Linked DNA regions of Homo sapiens: regions 2 and 3 are each linked to region 1. The links come from fine-mapping of genetic effects on gene expression. A gene starts in region 1. Each other region holds a variant in brackets. All regions are shown on one strand. Distances are from middle to middle.

Region 1 (5,224 bases):
ACACAGGTGTCTTTGAACAAACTTTTTTGTATTATTATTTTTACATCTAGAATAAATTATTTAAATTATTTCACAGCAAGGGAGAGGGATAGGTAATTTTTATCAGATATTTTTTTAAACCATCTGTTTTTTAAATTACATTTTTGTTTATGTTCTTGAGCTGATGTAGTGGAACTTGCCTAGCACATTCAGGTCCCAGCCAGTTGGCAGAGCATGCTCTCATCTCCTTATTCCATACCCTGGGCGTCCCCTTTCTGTTGACTCAGGAACTTTCTGAGAATGAGGACAGCACTAGGAGATGAGCTTTGGCAGGTATCCACCTTAACGCTACAATAATTGTGCTTCCTGAAACAAAACTTGAGATTGTATCATAGAAGGAAACAGGAAGTCAGAAATCAAATCTATGCTTTTAATTGAAACCGTGCCTGAAACAGTTTGAATGATTGTTTTAATGTTGTTTCTGAAATTCCTTGTACCTTTGTGAAAAATAATGATAATAAATAAAAGTGAAAATAAATAGATGTGGAATATGCAATGGAAATAATGTAACAAAATAATAAACATCTGGCCATTTTACTACAAGGAGCTTTCCTTTTCTTGATTTGTTCCACAAATACCAATTAACTATCTACTCTTGGAGTCAGACACCAAGCTGGAAAACAGGCAGAACAGACAGTCTTTGCCCTCTCCAGTTTTCAGTCATGGCTGCGGGAATGGGGAGGGCCAGGATAGGGAAAGCATAGGCTGTTCTGGAAGGAGAAGGAGGGAAGGCTTCCTGGAGGAAAAGATAGTAAGGTAGAAACCTGCAGAGTAAGTTGGAATACTCAGGGCAAAGGGCATTTGGGAAGAAGAATGTTCCAAGCAGGGTAAACTGCACGTCCCCCAGTCTTGAAAAAGCACAGGGTGGAGCATAGGCAGGGCGGAGACCAAGGATCTTAAGAAAGAGCTGAGGGCTTTATAAGTGGAAGTCTAGACTTGAGCCTGGGGGGGCAACTGGAATTTGGGGTGGTGGTGTGTGTGTGAAAGTTGTCAGTACCAAAACAGAGTCACTTACATCAAAACCAAACTAAATGGTGCTCCTGTAGTCCCAGCTACTCCAGAGATGAGGTGGGAAGATCACTTGAGCCCAGGAGTTAGAGGCTGCAGTGAGCTATGATCGCACTATTGCACTCCAGCCTGGGCAACAGAGCGAGATCCTGTCTCAAACAAACTAAATGGTGCTGGGAGGCCATGAAGTGGGGGGCCCTCATCAACGATTTGCCTGGTAACAGGAACTATTATTGCAAAAGATTCCACCAAACTGCAACCTTGCACAAAGAACCACAACCTTGCACAAAAGCCATGATATGAGGACATCTGCCCAGCAACTGCCTGTTCAACTTTTGGACTGAAGCCACCTGTATTAATTCTTGTAACCAAGTATTATTATTTTAAAACGATCTGGCCGGGCGCGGTGGATCACGCCTGTAATCCCAGCACTTTGGGAGGCCGAGGCGGGCAGATCACGGGGTCAGGAGATCGAGACCATCCTGGCTAAAACAGTGAAACCCCTTTTCTACTAAAAATACAAAAAATTAGCCGGGCGTGGTGGCGGGCGCCTGTAGTTCCAGCTACTCGGGAGGCTGAAGCAGGAGAATGGCGTGAACCCGGGAGGCGGAGCTTGCAGTGAGCAGAGATGGCGCCACTGCACTCCAGCCTGGGCGACAGACCGAGACTCCGTCTCCAAAAAAAAAAAAAAAAAAAAAAAACAAAAACAAACAAACAAACAAAAAAAACAGTATATGCAATCCTCCTCGTTTTGCCTTTAAAAGCCTCTGCTTTCCTTTGCCTCCCTGAGTACTCCGCGTCCCCACCCCTTGGGTGCCATGGCACATTTATTCCCGAATTGCAATCCTTCTGCTCAGTCCGAAATAAACTCAATTGGAGAATCTCTGTGTCCTTATTTGAGGTTGATGAAGGTATCTTACAGTTGTGGGAATGATTATCTTTCCGGGGAAAAGGGCAAGAGAGGATCAAGGGAAAGTGAGAGGAGCACCCCCGGAAGGTCACAGCCAACTTTGGTCCCATCATCAGGGCTGCAGTTTTCTGGGCGTTACTGGAACAGCGTCATTAAGCAGGAAGCCCACCCTCTCCTAGCTGGCTCATTAGGAGCTTCCCATTTCTGGTGGGACCACCTCCCGGCCTGGGCGGGCAGAGGGAGCACCCTGCTGGTCGGAGGATGCTCCGAGGCCCGACGCTGCTCCCGGCGGGCTGTCATCCTCCTAGGGGTCGGCCGGCCGGCCTGGAGCCGCCCCGCCCACGGCCGAGGTTTCGGTTTCCCTTGGGAGCCCCGCCCTGTGTCCCGGGGAGCCGGAGGAGGTGGAGATGAATGGCGGGCGCGGCGACCGGGAGCCGGACCCCTGGGAGGTCGGAGCTTGTCGAGGGATGCGGCTGGCGCTGCCCGGAGCATGGCGACCGCGTGGCTGAGCTCTTCTGTCGCCGCTGCCGCCGCTGCGTGTGCGCGCTTTGCCCGGTGCTGGGCGCGCACCGTGGCCACCCTGTGGGCCTGGCGCTGGAGGCAGCGGTGCACGTGCAGGTGGGGACGATGGGGACGGGGTTCGCCGCGCGGGAGTTGGGGGAGCCAGCCCAGGCATAACGGCCGAGGAGGGGGCGTGCCTGGCCGTGGCCAGTGGCGGGTTACAACCTGGAAACCAAAGGTGCCCCAGAGGGCGTCTAAGCGGTCGACCGAAAGTTCAGAGCGGGAGCCTGAGACCCAAGGAAGGGCAAAGGCGAGCCAAAGCCATCAGTTGAGCTTCAGAAAAGGTGGGTTTAGGAGTGAGAGGTTGGGAGCCCAGGCTGGTACCCAGATGTCCTTGACCGTGTCCACCATGGCCGATCCGCCACACTGCCATTGGGCTGGAAGACAGTCTGCCTTTTAGTTAACAGAGGTACAAACTCTCCCTCTTAATAAACAGCCCTGTGTAGCTCAGAAAGCCACACAGACATCTCAGGTTTACTTAATCTGCAGTCCACAGAAAGGGCCTGTGAACTTTGAGCTGAGGACGGCCTGACTGCCCTGGGAGCAGCCTCAGCTGTCACTACCTACCTCCTCTCCCCTCCCCGGCCACACAGACACTCCCATTCCTGCTCATAGCAGCCCTGGGTGAGCCATTATTATTACAGCCATTTTATAGGCCACAAGAGGAAGGCTCTGGAGGCAGGGGCAGGCCTTGAACCCAGGACTCCATTAGCCAGATGCCCCCAACAGGGCCATTGTCACCGTGGAACCCTTACCCATGCATAATCCTAACAGTGCCCCAGGGGCTCTGGGCTCCTGCTCCAGCTTCCCAGCTGACTTTTTCTGTGGCTTCTCTCAAATCCTTCTCTCTCTCTGGGTTTCATGAAGCCTGGGTGAGGTAGGCCCTCATGTCTGACAGCTGTTGATCCTACCACTTGTCTCCAAGAAGTCTTCTGTGATGAATTCAGCCCCATCGTGAGCCTTTCTCCGGTACTGCATGACTCCAGACCACCACACTGTGACAACCTTGGAACTCCAAGGTGAAAAGGGGATCATGGGGGACAATCCAGTGGAGTCGTGGGCTCAAGACCTGTCCCTGCCACCAGACCCTTCCTTTTTTTAACGTATGAAATGGCTGTAATTATAATAATGGCTCCTTGAAAAACTGTTATTCAGAATTAACAAGGCTGCTTTCCACAGATCTGGCTCAAGAGTCTCACCCATCCATTTGTCCATCCCCCTACCCACTACCTACTGTCAACTTGAAGTAATAAGATTCAGAAAATATGATTAAGTACAGAGTTTATCCAAGCCTAAAGCTTGAGGATGGCCAACTGGGACCATAGATTCAAATTTCTGTGACTATCCACTCTGATTAGCAGCAGTTACATATAAGTTTTTAAGGAAAAAAGAAGAAGCAGTTCCTAAATTGTTTACCAAGAATTTACATTAAAATGACATAAGCAGTCGGGCACAGTGGCTCATGCCTGTAATCCCAGCACTTTGGGAGGCTGAGGCAGGAGGATCACATGAGGCCAAGGGTTTGAGGCCTGGCCAACATGGGGAAACCCCGTCTCTATTAAAAAATATGAAAATCAGCCAGGTGTGGTGGTACACATCTGTAATCCCAGCTACTCAGGAGGCTGAGGCATGAGAATCGCTTGAACCTGGGAGATGGAGGTTGCAATGAGCCGAGATCACGCCACCGCACTCCAGCCTGGATGACAGAGTGAGACTTTGTCTTAAATAAATAAATAAATAAATAAATAAATAAATAAATAAAACAGAGAATCTCTATGGCAGAACAACACCAAACCTATTCCACTGGGGAGTCAACTAAAAACATCACGAAGAAAATCCCAAGCCTTCTTTAAAAGCCAGGAATTGGCTTCTAAAACTTTTTCTACAACCTTCCTTGTTGTAGCCAGGAAATAATTCAGGATTTAGTCCAAATTGCAGGAAAATAAAAACTAAAAAACAATGGCCAGGGCTGGAATCTAATAACAGGAATAACAGGTGTGCATAACAGGTGTGCTAAGATTTTCTTCTGAAACATAATTTTTCTCTCTCTAGTTCCCTGTTTTTACCAAAAATGAGTCTTGATAGGACAAATTTACTTGCAAAGTAAGTTTTAATATTACACTTGGCCTGATAATTTGCATTATTGGAACTTTCATAAGGAATTTTGGATTTGACTTTTTTTTTTTTTTTTTTGAGACACAGGGTCTCACTCTGTCACCCAGACTAGAGTGCAATGGCATGATCGTGGCTCACTGCAACCTCCACCTCCCAGGGTCAAGCAATCCTCCTACCTTGGCCTCCCAAGTAGCTGGGACTATAGGTATGCACCACCACACCTGGCTAATTTTTTTTTTGTATTTTTTTTGTAGAGACGGGGTTTCACCATGTTGTCCAGGCTGGTCTAGAATTCCTGGGCTCAAGTGATCCTCTTGCCTCAGCCTTCCAAAGTGCTGGGATTATAGGCGTGAAACACCACGCCTGGCCTGGATTTGACTTTTAAAAGCCTTACAGCTAAAAAGCCAAACCAAGGATTCACCATCAGACTATGCCTGTGATACCCATACACATTGGGTGAATTATTCTCTTCTCAAGGTCCCAAAATATCTTGAGGTTCCTAGACCTGTCGGAAAGTGACATTCTTTTCTTACCACAAGGTCGGGAACCTTGTAAGGGAACTGTGTAGACAAGGACCAAGCTAGTCCAGTC
Region 2 (5,224 bases), 26 kb after region 1:
GGTGCCAGGCCAACGTGGAGCCTGGGCATGCTGGTGTGGGTTTGTTCCTGGGTGCAGCACAGGAGGCTGGGATGCTGCCTGCATCTCCCAGAGCCACCCTCACCCCCGTGTGCCCACACAGGCATACACGGCCACCGAGCAGGAGATGCAGCAGCAGATGAGCCTCGGGGAGCTGTGCCATCCCGTGCCCCTCTCCTTTGAGCCCGTCAAGAGCTTCTTTAAGGGCCTCGTGGAAGCCGTGGAGAGTACATTACAGACGCCATTGGACATTCGCCTTAAGGAAAGTAAGTCGCCGAGTGACCAACTTTGTGTCCTTAACTCCCCTAGTGTCCTTTAGCCCAGAGACGAATGCAAAGATCATCTCCCTACATCCTGTCTCTCCCACACTGAGGCCCTTGGCTGGGCGGTCAGGGGCTCCTGGGCCTGGTGCCCAACCCACCCTCACCACTTCACCTCCAACCCTTCCTGAGACTGAGACCTGCCCTTCTCCAGTCACACTGCCCTGCTTCTGCCCCTCAGATTGCTCCTGGGAGCCTGCCACATCTCAGCCTTGCTCTGGGCTCCCAGCTGGAATGACCAACTCTTCCTCCTTCTCTTCCTCTGGCTGGGGCCAAGGCCTGGCACCCCTTCGAGGCAGACTGGCACAGCTGCGCCCACCTGGGAAGCCCTTTCCTGCCAGCCCAGCCCTGACTCACTCTCTCCTTTAGCCATCTCCCCTCTCCCTTCCCGCTCCAGGGCCTGCCCATGTCCTGCTAGAGGGTGCTCATGAAGTGGATACATGGACCCCCCTCCTTGCCCCTTGTAAGCACGTGAAGGGCAGAAACCAGCTTTAGGTCCAACTCTGAGGTCCCCCCAGGGCCTGGCACAAAACATGTACTCAAAAATATCTGTTCTTTGATTCATTTATGCATTCATTCATTCATTCACCTCTGCTATCATGATTCATTCAGAACATTTATCAAGCCCCTCTTATATGCCAGGCATAGCAGGGCACAAAACAAAGCTCCTTCTCCTCTTTTGGTGCTCACAGTCTTCGTAGGGGAAGACAGACCGTACACAAACATGTCAGGTGACAGGAACTGCTATACTGCTATAAAGAATAATAAAGGCCGGGCGTGGTGGCTCACGCCTGTAATCCCAGCACTTTGGGAGGCCGAGGTGGGTGGATGATGAGGTCAGGAGTTTGAGACCAGCCTGGCCAACATGGTGAAACCCCATCTCTACTACAAATACAAAAATTAGCCAGGCATGGTGGCATGCACCTGTAATCCCAGCTACTCGGGAAGCTGAGGCAGGAGAATTGCTTGAACCCGGGAGGTGGAGGTTGCAGTGAGTTGAGATCATGCCACTGTACTTCAACCTGGGTGACAGAGCAAGACTCTGTCTCAAAAATAACAATAATAATAATAATAATAAACCAGGGCAGGATGGAAGACAGGAAAGTGACAAGGAGGAGGAGCTGTTTTATATAAGCAGTTGGGATGGCCTCTGAGAAGGGGACACTCAAGGTGGCCCAAAGGAAGCATTCATTCTGCAGGTTCTGTGGGTCTGAAGGGCCAGAGAGCACAGTGGTCATAGGCACGGCCTCTGGAGCTAGGCCTCCTGGGTTCCTATCCGAGGTCTACCACTTGGAACCCTGCTGAACCCTGCCATCTTAGACACGGCTCCTCCCTTTTCCATGCCTCTGTTTCTGCATCTGTAAAGTGGAGACCATAATGCAGTCGCCTCTCCTGGGCTGCTGTGAGGATTAAATGAGCTCTTACACATATAGCGCTCAGGCATATTAAGCACCACGTATGTCTTGGCGATTATGATTGCTGCTGCTGTTACGTCTGGGGGAGGTATTCTAGACAGAGGGAAAAGCAAGGGTGGAGGTCCTGAGGCGCGATGGGAGTGAGCTGGCCATATCGAAGGAGCAGCAATGGGGACAACAGGAGTGGACGTAGGGTCACAGGGGAGAGAGGAAAGAGATCAGAATCCAAGGATTTGGACGTGGGCAACTCGCAGAAGGAAACTGTCATTTTCTGAAGTGAGAAAGAGTATTTAGGACTGGAGGGAATGAAGTGAACCTGTTAGATTTGAGAAGTTGGACTTCCCATGTGGTGGTATCGCCTCGGCAGTAGGACCTATGATTCTAGAGTTCTGGGGAGAGGGGAGAGGCTTTTGCCTTGATGAAAGAACAACTTCAGCCAAATTAAATTTAAAGGAGTTTAAATGAGCAATGAACGATTCATGAATCCGGCAGCCCTCTGAGCCACAGTGCACTCAGAGACTCCAGCACAGCCACGTGGTGGAAGAAGATTTAGGGACAGAAAAAGGAAAGCGACGTACAGAAAACAGAAGTGAGGTACAGAAGCAGCTGGATTGGTTACAGCTCGGCGTTCGCCTAATTTGAACACAATTTGAACAGTTGGCTACATCTGATTGGCCAAAACTTGGTGATTGGCACAAGTGCAGGCTACGGTCTGTTTACACCTCCACTTGTTATTGTTCATGACGTACAGAAAAATATGTAGGCCGAACTTAAAAGATGTAAGGAGGAGCTTTAGGCAAAACTTGATTTAAACAGCCTGCAGGTGGGCTTCCCACAGATCTCTACAGGCCCCTGTGATGAGTGCTGGGAGTGATGGGGGCGGAAGGCACTTCTGCGGAGGTGCTGAGTGAGCT[G/C]CGGCCCCAATAGCTGGGAAGGAGGCAACCTGGGCAAGGGGGGAAGGGTGTGGGGGGGCTGTCCAGGCAGAGGGCACAGCAAGTGCCAAGGGCCCTGGGTGCCCCTGCTGTGCCCGCTTGTTGGGATAGACTCCCCTCCTTCTTTCTTTCTGAGCACTCAGACCTTCCTGAGGACTCAGCTCTACTTTCTTGTTTTCCATCTTTACCCTGGAATCTGCACATCTTCCCTGAGTCGCCGCCCATCCTTGAGTGTTGGATCCAGTAGTTGTTCGCGCCTCAGCTCCTCCTCCTATTTAGGACTCTCCCACACCAGCCTTGTCATCCTGGGGTTTTCCTGTCCCTGTGAATTCACATAAATCCCTTAAATCTGCCTGGCTCTTGGGCGAGATTATGCGAATCTCCAGTTGTGTGGTATTTTTAGCACGTCTTATTTGTCTGCTTGCATAAGCTCCGGGCGCTCATTTCTCAACAATTCCTTACAGGCATAAACTGCCAGCTCTCAGACCCTTCCAGCACCAAGCCAGGTACCTTGTTGAAAACCAGCCCCTCACCAGAGCGATCGCTATTGCTGAAATGTAAGACCCCCGGGAGTGGGGATAGGGTGGAGACGGTGGAGATGGTGGGATGTTGGGTGGAGGAGGATCATGGAAATGGAGGTCCCTCTTTTTTTCTCATTAGAATTTATTTATTTATTTATTTTAAGAACTTGTTTTTTAAAAAATGTTTATTATTAAAGGCAATAAAACAATACATGTTCATTGTAGAAAAATTAGAAAATGAAAGAAAAAAGTTACTCATAATCCCTCTTCTGTGAATAACTGCTATTATTATTTGTCCTTTTAGCTTTTTTAGCACATCTAATATGCATATAATGATATATTTAATATATCTTTTTATGTTACAAACGTGGTGTCATACTATACATACTGTTTTGTCATCTGTTTTCATTTACTGATATATTATGAACATATATATATTTGGGATTTATACAGTGAGCCACTGTGCCCAGCTAATATTATCACTATGTGTGTGTGTGTGTGTGACCGAGTCTTGCTCTGGAGTGCAGTGGTGCAGTCATGGCTCACTGCAGCCTCGACCTCTTGGGCACAAATGATTTTCCCACCTCAGCCTCCCTCATAGCTGGGACTATCAGTGTGTGCCACCATGCCCAGCTAATTTTTTATTTTTATCATTGTTTTTAGAGGTTGCATGGCATTGCATTGAATGGATGTGTCATATTTAGCCAATCTCATAATGTTGGATGTTTACATTTTCATTTCTAAAACAATGCTGTAATAAACATCCATTCTTGTACACATTTGTTGAATTGAATTAATGAATGAGAGAATGAACACACCATACCTCATTTTCAGATTATTTTTTAGGAGTAATTTCTCAAGTGGAATTACTGGGTGTCAACCTAAAAAAGACTCAATCTAAAGAAGGCTCAGTATCCAGTTAGCAGAGTTTATTCAAGTGCAAAGTAACCATCAGGAGACAGAGGGAAACCAAAGAATGGTGATCACTGCCCCTGGTGTTGGGAGGGGGACAGTGAATATCAAAACAGAGGCACTGAATAAATTTACATTTTCCATACAAAGGCTAACATACTGATTTAAAGGCCGAGCACGGTGGCTCACACCTGTAATCCCAGCACTTTGGGAACCCAAGGCAGGTGGATCACTTGAGGTCAGCAGTTCGAGACCAGCCTGCACAACATGGTGAAACCCTGTCTCCACTAAAAATACAAAAATTAGCTGGGCATGGTGGCATGCACCAGTAGTCCTAGCTGCTCAGGAGACTGAGGCAGGAGAATCGCTTGAACCCGGGAGGCGAAGGTTGCAGTGAGCCGAGGTCGCACTACTGCACTCCAGCCTGGCAACAGAGCAAGACTCCGTCTTAAAAAAAAAAAAAAAAAAAAAAGTGCACAAATCAAAAATGTGCAGATCAATCAGCTCAATGATTTTTTAAAAAGGAAACATATTTTGTAACCACCTTCAGATCAAGAAATGGAAATTTCCACTCCCCAGAAGTCTTCCTCATGTGCCTTCTTGTTTACTATCCCCAAAGGGGATCCACTCTCCAGACTTCTAGGACTATAGGTTAGTTTTACCTGTTTTTGAACTTTCAGTAGATCATTCACACTATACCCTTCTGTGTTTTGCTTCTTTCACTCAATATGAGATTTATCCATTTTTGTATATTGACATACTGAGTGGCTGTTATAAATTCACTTAGTACTTCTAAGCTATCTACAGATTATTTGGGTTTTTGTGTAAATAAGCATGTCACCTATGAATAATAATCTTTCATTTCCCCGATCTTTATTCTTTCCTTTCACTTCTTTTTCGTGCCTTGAGTTACTGTCTACTACATTTAGAACATTGTTGAATAGAAGTGGTTATAATGAGCAGCATTTTCTCCCACCTTAGACATATATCCAACAGAAATGCATACATATGTGAATCAAAAGACCTGCACAAGAATGTTATGTGACCGAAACACAGGTTCAGTTGCTCAACGCTTTGCAGAGTTCAATTAACAAGAGCGAGGTCTG
Region 3 (5,224 bases), 61 kb after region 1:
TTTGCATTGTAAATATTAAAAACATTGGATCAAAGAGTTAAGGAAGATTTTAAGTTATATAACTGAGCAAAGAATAGTCAACTCAGCACTGGACCAGAATTTAGTAAAGAAAAATTCTGGTTTAACTTTGACCCTAACTCTTAGATAAGTCACTTCCCAGCTCTGGACTCAGTTTCTCCATCGATATAAAAGCAGTTTGGGCTACCTCCAGGATGTGTAAACTGTCCTAATGAGGCCCTCTCAGGGACAGGAACATCCAGGGACAGTGCCCTATGCCTCTTTCTCTGATTTCAACAATAGCAACTCTGCTTTTAGCTGCTTTGCACTGGCGCTTTTCTCCATGACATTTTCTTTGAACAGGTTACATGTTAAAAAGCAGACAAACAAAACAAAAATGCCCCAGCCCCTAGATGACTTCTACTGAGCAGAGGCAATAATATAAAAGCCGGATTGTTTGACTATAAAAAAAAAAAAACAAAAAACACTCAAGAGGTCAGGCACAGTGGCCCATGCCTATAATCCAAACACTTTGAGAGGCCAAGGTGGGAGGATTGCTTGAACCAAGGAGTTCAAGACCAGCCTCGGCAACATAGTAAGACCCTGTCTCTACAAAAAATATAAAAATTAGCCAGGCATGGTGGCATACGCTTGTAGTCCCAGCTACTCAGGAGGCTGAGGGGGGAGGATCGCTTGATCCCCAGAGGTTGAGGTGGCAATGAGCTATGATGGTGCCACTGCACTCCAGCCTGAGCAACAGAGTGAGACCTTGACTCAAACAAAAACAATCTACTCAAGAAAAAGAGTAATTAAAACCCACTAAAGTCCCATCTCACGGCCATTTCTGTAGACACAGAGGTATTCATGCTATTAAAAACTTCTTGGCTGCCGGGCGCAGTGGCTCACACCTGTAATCCCAGCACTCTGGGAGGCCGAGGTGGGCAGATCACGAGGTCAGGAGATCGAGACCATCCTGGCTAACATGGTGAAACCCCGTCTCTACTAAAAATACAAAAAATTAGCTAGGTGTGGTGGTGGGCACCTGTAATCCCAGCTACTCGGGAGGCTGAGACAGGAGAACGGTGTGAACCCAGGAGGCGGAGCTTGCAGTAAGCCGAGATCACGCCACTGCACTCCAGCCTGGGTGACACAGCGAGACTCCGTCTTGAAAAAAAAAAATAAAAACTTCTTGGGTCCAGAAATGTCAGTGCTGAGATCACTACTCCTGCTCTTAGACAAATCATAAGATGGTAGAGTCAGGACTTGATGCTGGAAAGTTCAAAGAACATTAGAACTGAAAGTGACCTTGGGCAACAGAGCTCTCATTGTCTAGATGAAGATCCCAAGGCCCAGACTGACCTGACTAAAGTTGCACAGTGTCTCTAGCAGAGCTGGCCAGATCCCTTTCCTAAAGGCTGCAGCCACCTAGATTCCAGCTCAATGGAATTAGAGACAGGGTCTCGCTATGTGGCCCAGGCTGGTCTCGAATTCCTGAGCTCAAGCAATCTGCCTTCCTCAGCCTCCCAAAGTGATGGGATTACAGGAATCAGCCACTGCACCTGGTCAGTACAGCTTTGTTTCTATGGCTTCAGTATCTCTAGATATTTCTACAACTTCGGCATTCCAAGAGGAAAAACAGACTGCTCCTTCAAATTAAGAGTGGGAATTTCCCTCTAGAAAACAATGTTGCAGAAGAAAGGCTGGAGTCCTGTGGCTTAGGAGCAAAAACTGAAAAAACCCCTTACTGTATTTATTATACTAGCTATGTGACCTTGCCTAAGTCACTTATTTTCTCTTAGCCTTTAAAATGAAATCGGCAGCATCATGGCATTGGGTTGTTGTAAAAATTAAATGAGATGGTGCATGTACAGCATTTAGCTTAGTACCTGGTAGAGTAAGCACTCAAAAAATGTTAGCAATGTTATTTTTGTAAAGTATTTTTATGATTCAGTGATTAGGTTTCCATAAAACCAGTCCCGAAGGAACAGCAAGGGCCGAGGGTGGTGGCTCACACCTGTAATCCCAGCACTTTCGGAGGCCAAGGTGGGCAGATTGCTTGAGCTCAGGAGTTCGAGACCAGCCTGGGTAACATGGCCAAACCCCATCTCTACAAAAAAATTAGCCCAGCATGGTGGTTCACGCCTGTGGGTCCCAGCTACTCGGGAGGCTGAGGTGGGAGAATCACTTAAGCCTGGGAGGCAGAGGTTGCAGTGAGCCGGGATCATGCCACTGCACTCCAGCCTGGGTGATACAGAGACCCTGTCTCAAAAAAAAAAAAAAAAAAAACCAGGAAAAAAAAAAAAAAACAGTAAGAGAAAACCTCCAGCCTGGGTGACAGAGCAAGACCCTGTCTCTAACATAGATAAATAAATAAATAAACATTTAAAAAACCTATCACAAATGATACAAAATCAGTTGAGTAGCATTGATGAAGGGAAAGGAAAGATGGGGTGAGCTATCTCTAAACCAAAGAATCATAGTGCAGGCCAGGCCTTATGCTGGGGGCTGGGGTCGTAATGAAGAATATGGCAGTCCCAACAGAAGAGGGAG[C/T]ACGCATTTACCGACTCATGTGTGCCAAGTGCTGGGCTCAGAGCTCTATCTGAGAATCTCATTTGATCCCCATAACAACTCCATGTGGAAAGAACTGTTGTTTTCAAGCCCCGTTTTCAAATGGGGAAAAGGGTTCACGGAGGCTAAGTAAGCAGCCCATGTTCACACAGCTAGTAGTGGTGGAACTGAGATTTGAACTCAAAGGCCCGGCTTTTAACCACTTCATATTTCATATACAGGGAATGGCGGGTGAGAGAGACCACAGCAACTTCCAGGAACTGTCATTCCTGAAAGTAACTCTGTGTCGCTGAAGAATGTCAGAGAAGAATTATGACGGGCTGGAAGGGGCCCAGTCATTAAAATCTTGAAGGCTATGTTAAAGGGTTTCGACTCTACCCGCGGGCAGGAGGGAGCCACAGAAGGTGCCAGGCAGGGGGGATGGTCTGATCAAGTCTGACTTTTAGAAAGATTATTCTGGCACCAGAACGGGGAGGAAACAGGTCGGGTTAGGAGGCAGCTGCTGTAATGCAGAAAGGTCACGAGGGTGGCGGACACGGTGAGGAAGAGGGATCCGAAGGATTCCGAAAACGGAACTGGCGGGCGGGAAGAGGCCGGACCAGGGTACCCAGCCGCGGAGGCCGTGTGGCCCTGGCTCCCCGCGGCCCCGCCCCGCCCCTCCCGGCGCCCGAATCCCGGGTCCCGGGAGCTGCCGCCTCACCTTGGCCATGCGGATCATGCGCTTGGCTACGTCCAGGTCGCCCTGGTGGTTCTGGCCGATCTCGGCAATGATGAAGCACGGGTGTTGCCCGCCCACCCAGCGCCCGGGACACAGCTCCAGCTCCAGCGGCATTGCAGCGGCTCGGGGTCCAAAGCCTCACTACCAGTCTGGGTCCGGCCGCCGCCGCCGCCGCCTCTACTCTGTTCTGTGAGCAACGCTGCGAGACCCACACGCCAGCCCCGCCACGTCAGCCCGCGGTCGCCGGGCAGCCAATCCCCTAGGCCCCGCCTCTCTCCCGACAGCCAATCGGGGCGGGGGGCGGGGGCGGGGCCTCCCGCGGGAAGGGCGGCGGGGCGGGTCGAGGAAGCTCCGCGGCCCTCTCCTGTGCGAGGCTTGAGGCTTGCTGTCCCAGAGCGTGGTCTCGGACCATCGCGGTATCCGTGCGTGCACCCAGGAGCAAGCATTCCCTGCAGGAGGCGGACGGCTGCCTGCGCAGGGCATAGTCTATGTCCTGCTCTCAGGAGCATGGGGAGAGCGCGCCCTATGGTGTAATGGAAAAAACAGGGTTGCTAGAGTTAGAATCACAGAGCTGGATCGAGTCCAGCCTATGCCAGTCACCAGCTCCTGCTCATATATACGTTACTCAGTCTTCCGGAGCGTTATTTTTGTTTCTCTCTGAAGCAAAAAAATAAAATAGAACTGTGAGATGACGTATAGAAACCCCTGATCACAATACTTGGCTTGTAGTAAGTTTTCAAGAAGTGGCGGAGGTTCCTATTATATGAGAGGCAACAGGTTCGAGAAGTTGCACTGGCTTGTCCAAAGCCATCCAGAAAGCCAAAGCAGAGATGGGACTAGTACCCGGACCTCCCAGCCCCAGGCTCTTAAAATACAATCACCTGGGCGGGCGCGGTGGCTCACACCTGTAATCCCAGCACTTTGGGAGGCCAAGGCAGGCAGATCACCTGAGGTCAGGAGTTCGAGACCAGCCTGACCAATATGGAGAAACCCCGTCTCTACTAAAAATACAAAAAAATTAGCCGGGCGTGGTGGTGCGTGCCTGTAATCCCAGCTACTCGAGAGGCTGAGGCAGGAGAATCGCTTGAACCCGGGAGGTGGAGGTTGCAGTGAGCCCAGATCACACCACTGCACTCCAGCCTGGTGACACTGCAAGACTCTGTCTCAAAAATAAATAAATTAATTAATTAATTTAAAAAATAAGATAAGTTATTTCCCAAAATAAACCTCCTTCTTTCCTGGGAACTAGACTGCCTTTGTAGGACTAACAAATTAGCCACAAGATTAGACACGTAGGAGTCATGCACCTGGAGGCTACAAGATTCTGACCCTCCCCAAATTGCTCCTGGGGATAACATCACTATTGTAAAACCTAAGACCAGTGCTTGAGATATTTTGCAGACCCTGCACTTGATGGATCAGCTGGCACCACCAGATTGATAAACTGGTTCATCTGATCTTGTGTCCCCCAACCAGGAACTGACTTGGCACAAGAAGACAGCCTTGACTTTCTATGATTTTATCTCCAACACAACCAATCAGCACTCCTGGCATACTGGCCTCTCTTAACCCACCACATTATCCTTAAAAACTCTGATCTCCAAGGTGGGGCATAGTGGCTCACACCTGTAATCCTAGCACTTTGGGAGGCTGAGGCGGGTGGATCACCTGAGGTCAGGAGTTCGAGACCAGCCTTGCCAACATGGTGAAACCCTGTCTCTACTAAAAATACAAAATGAGCCAGGTATGGTGGTGCATGCCTGTAATCCCAACTACTTGGGAGGCTGAGGTAGGAGAATCGCTTAAACCTGGGAGGCGGAGGTTGCAGTGAGCTGAGATTGTGCCATTGCACTCCAGCCTGGGCAACAAGAGCGAAACTCCATTTCAAAAACAAACAAACAAAAACCCCAAAAACCTCTGATCCCTGAATGCTAGGGGAAA

The links.
Region 2: its variant is fine-mapped to the expression of TRIM14 in whole blood (TOPMed, PIP above 0.99).
Region 3: its variant is fine-mapped to the expression of TRIM14 in whole blood (TOPMed, PIP above 0.99).

What each region holds. Positions count from the first base shown.
Region 1 is chr9:98,116,333-98,121,556 of GRCh38, reverse strand. TRIM14 (tripartite motif containing 14) reads left to right here and starts at 2,335. Exons shown (of 6, transcript NM_014788.4): 1 at 2,335-2,575. The coding sequence starts at 2,369. It overlaps CORO2A (coronin 2A), which reads left to right. Exons shown (of 12, transcript NM_052820.4): 12 at 1-582. RefSeq lists a silencer at 2,402-2,501 and an enhancer at 2,812-2,861.
Region 2 is chr9:98,089,927-98,095,150 of GRCh38, reverse strand. It overlaps TRIM14 (tripartite motif containing 14), which reads left to right. Exons shown (of 6, transcript NM_014788.4): 4 at 122-284; 5 at 3,150-3,242. Among named protein-coding and RNA genes, the nearest start is that of TRIM14, 27 kb to the left of the region's middle. RefSeq lists an enhancer at 3,940-4,499. The variant G/C (reference allele first, on the strand shown) is at 2,668.
Region 3 is chr9:98,054,982-98,060,205 of GRCh38, reverse strand. NANS (N-acetylneuraminate synthase) reads right to left here and starts at 3,474. Exons shown (of 6, transcript NM_018946.4): 1 at 3,266-3,474. The coding sequence starts at 3,397. It also overlaps a transcript of TRIM14 not described here. RefSeq lists enhancers at 2,756-2,875, 3,916-3,965 and silencers at 3,126-3,295, 3,376-3,725. The variant C/T (reference allele first, on the strand shown) is at 2,548.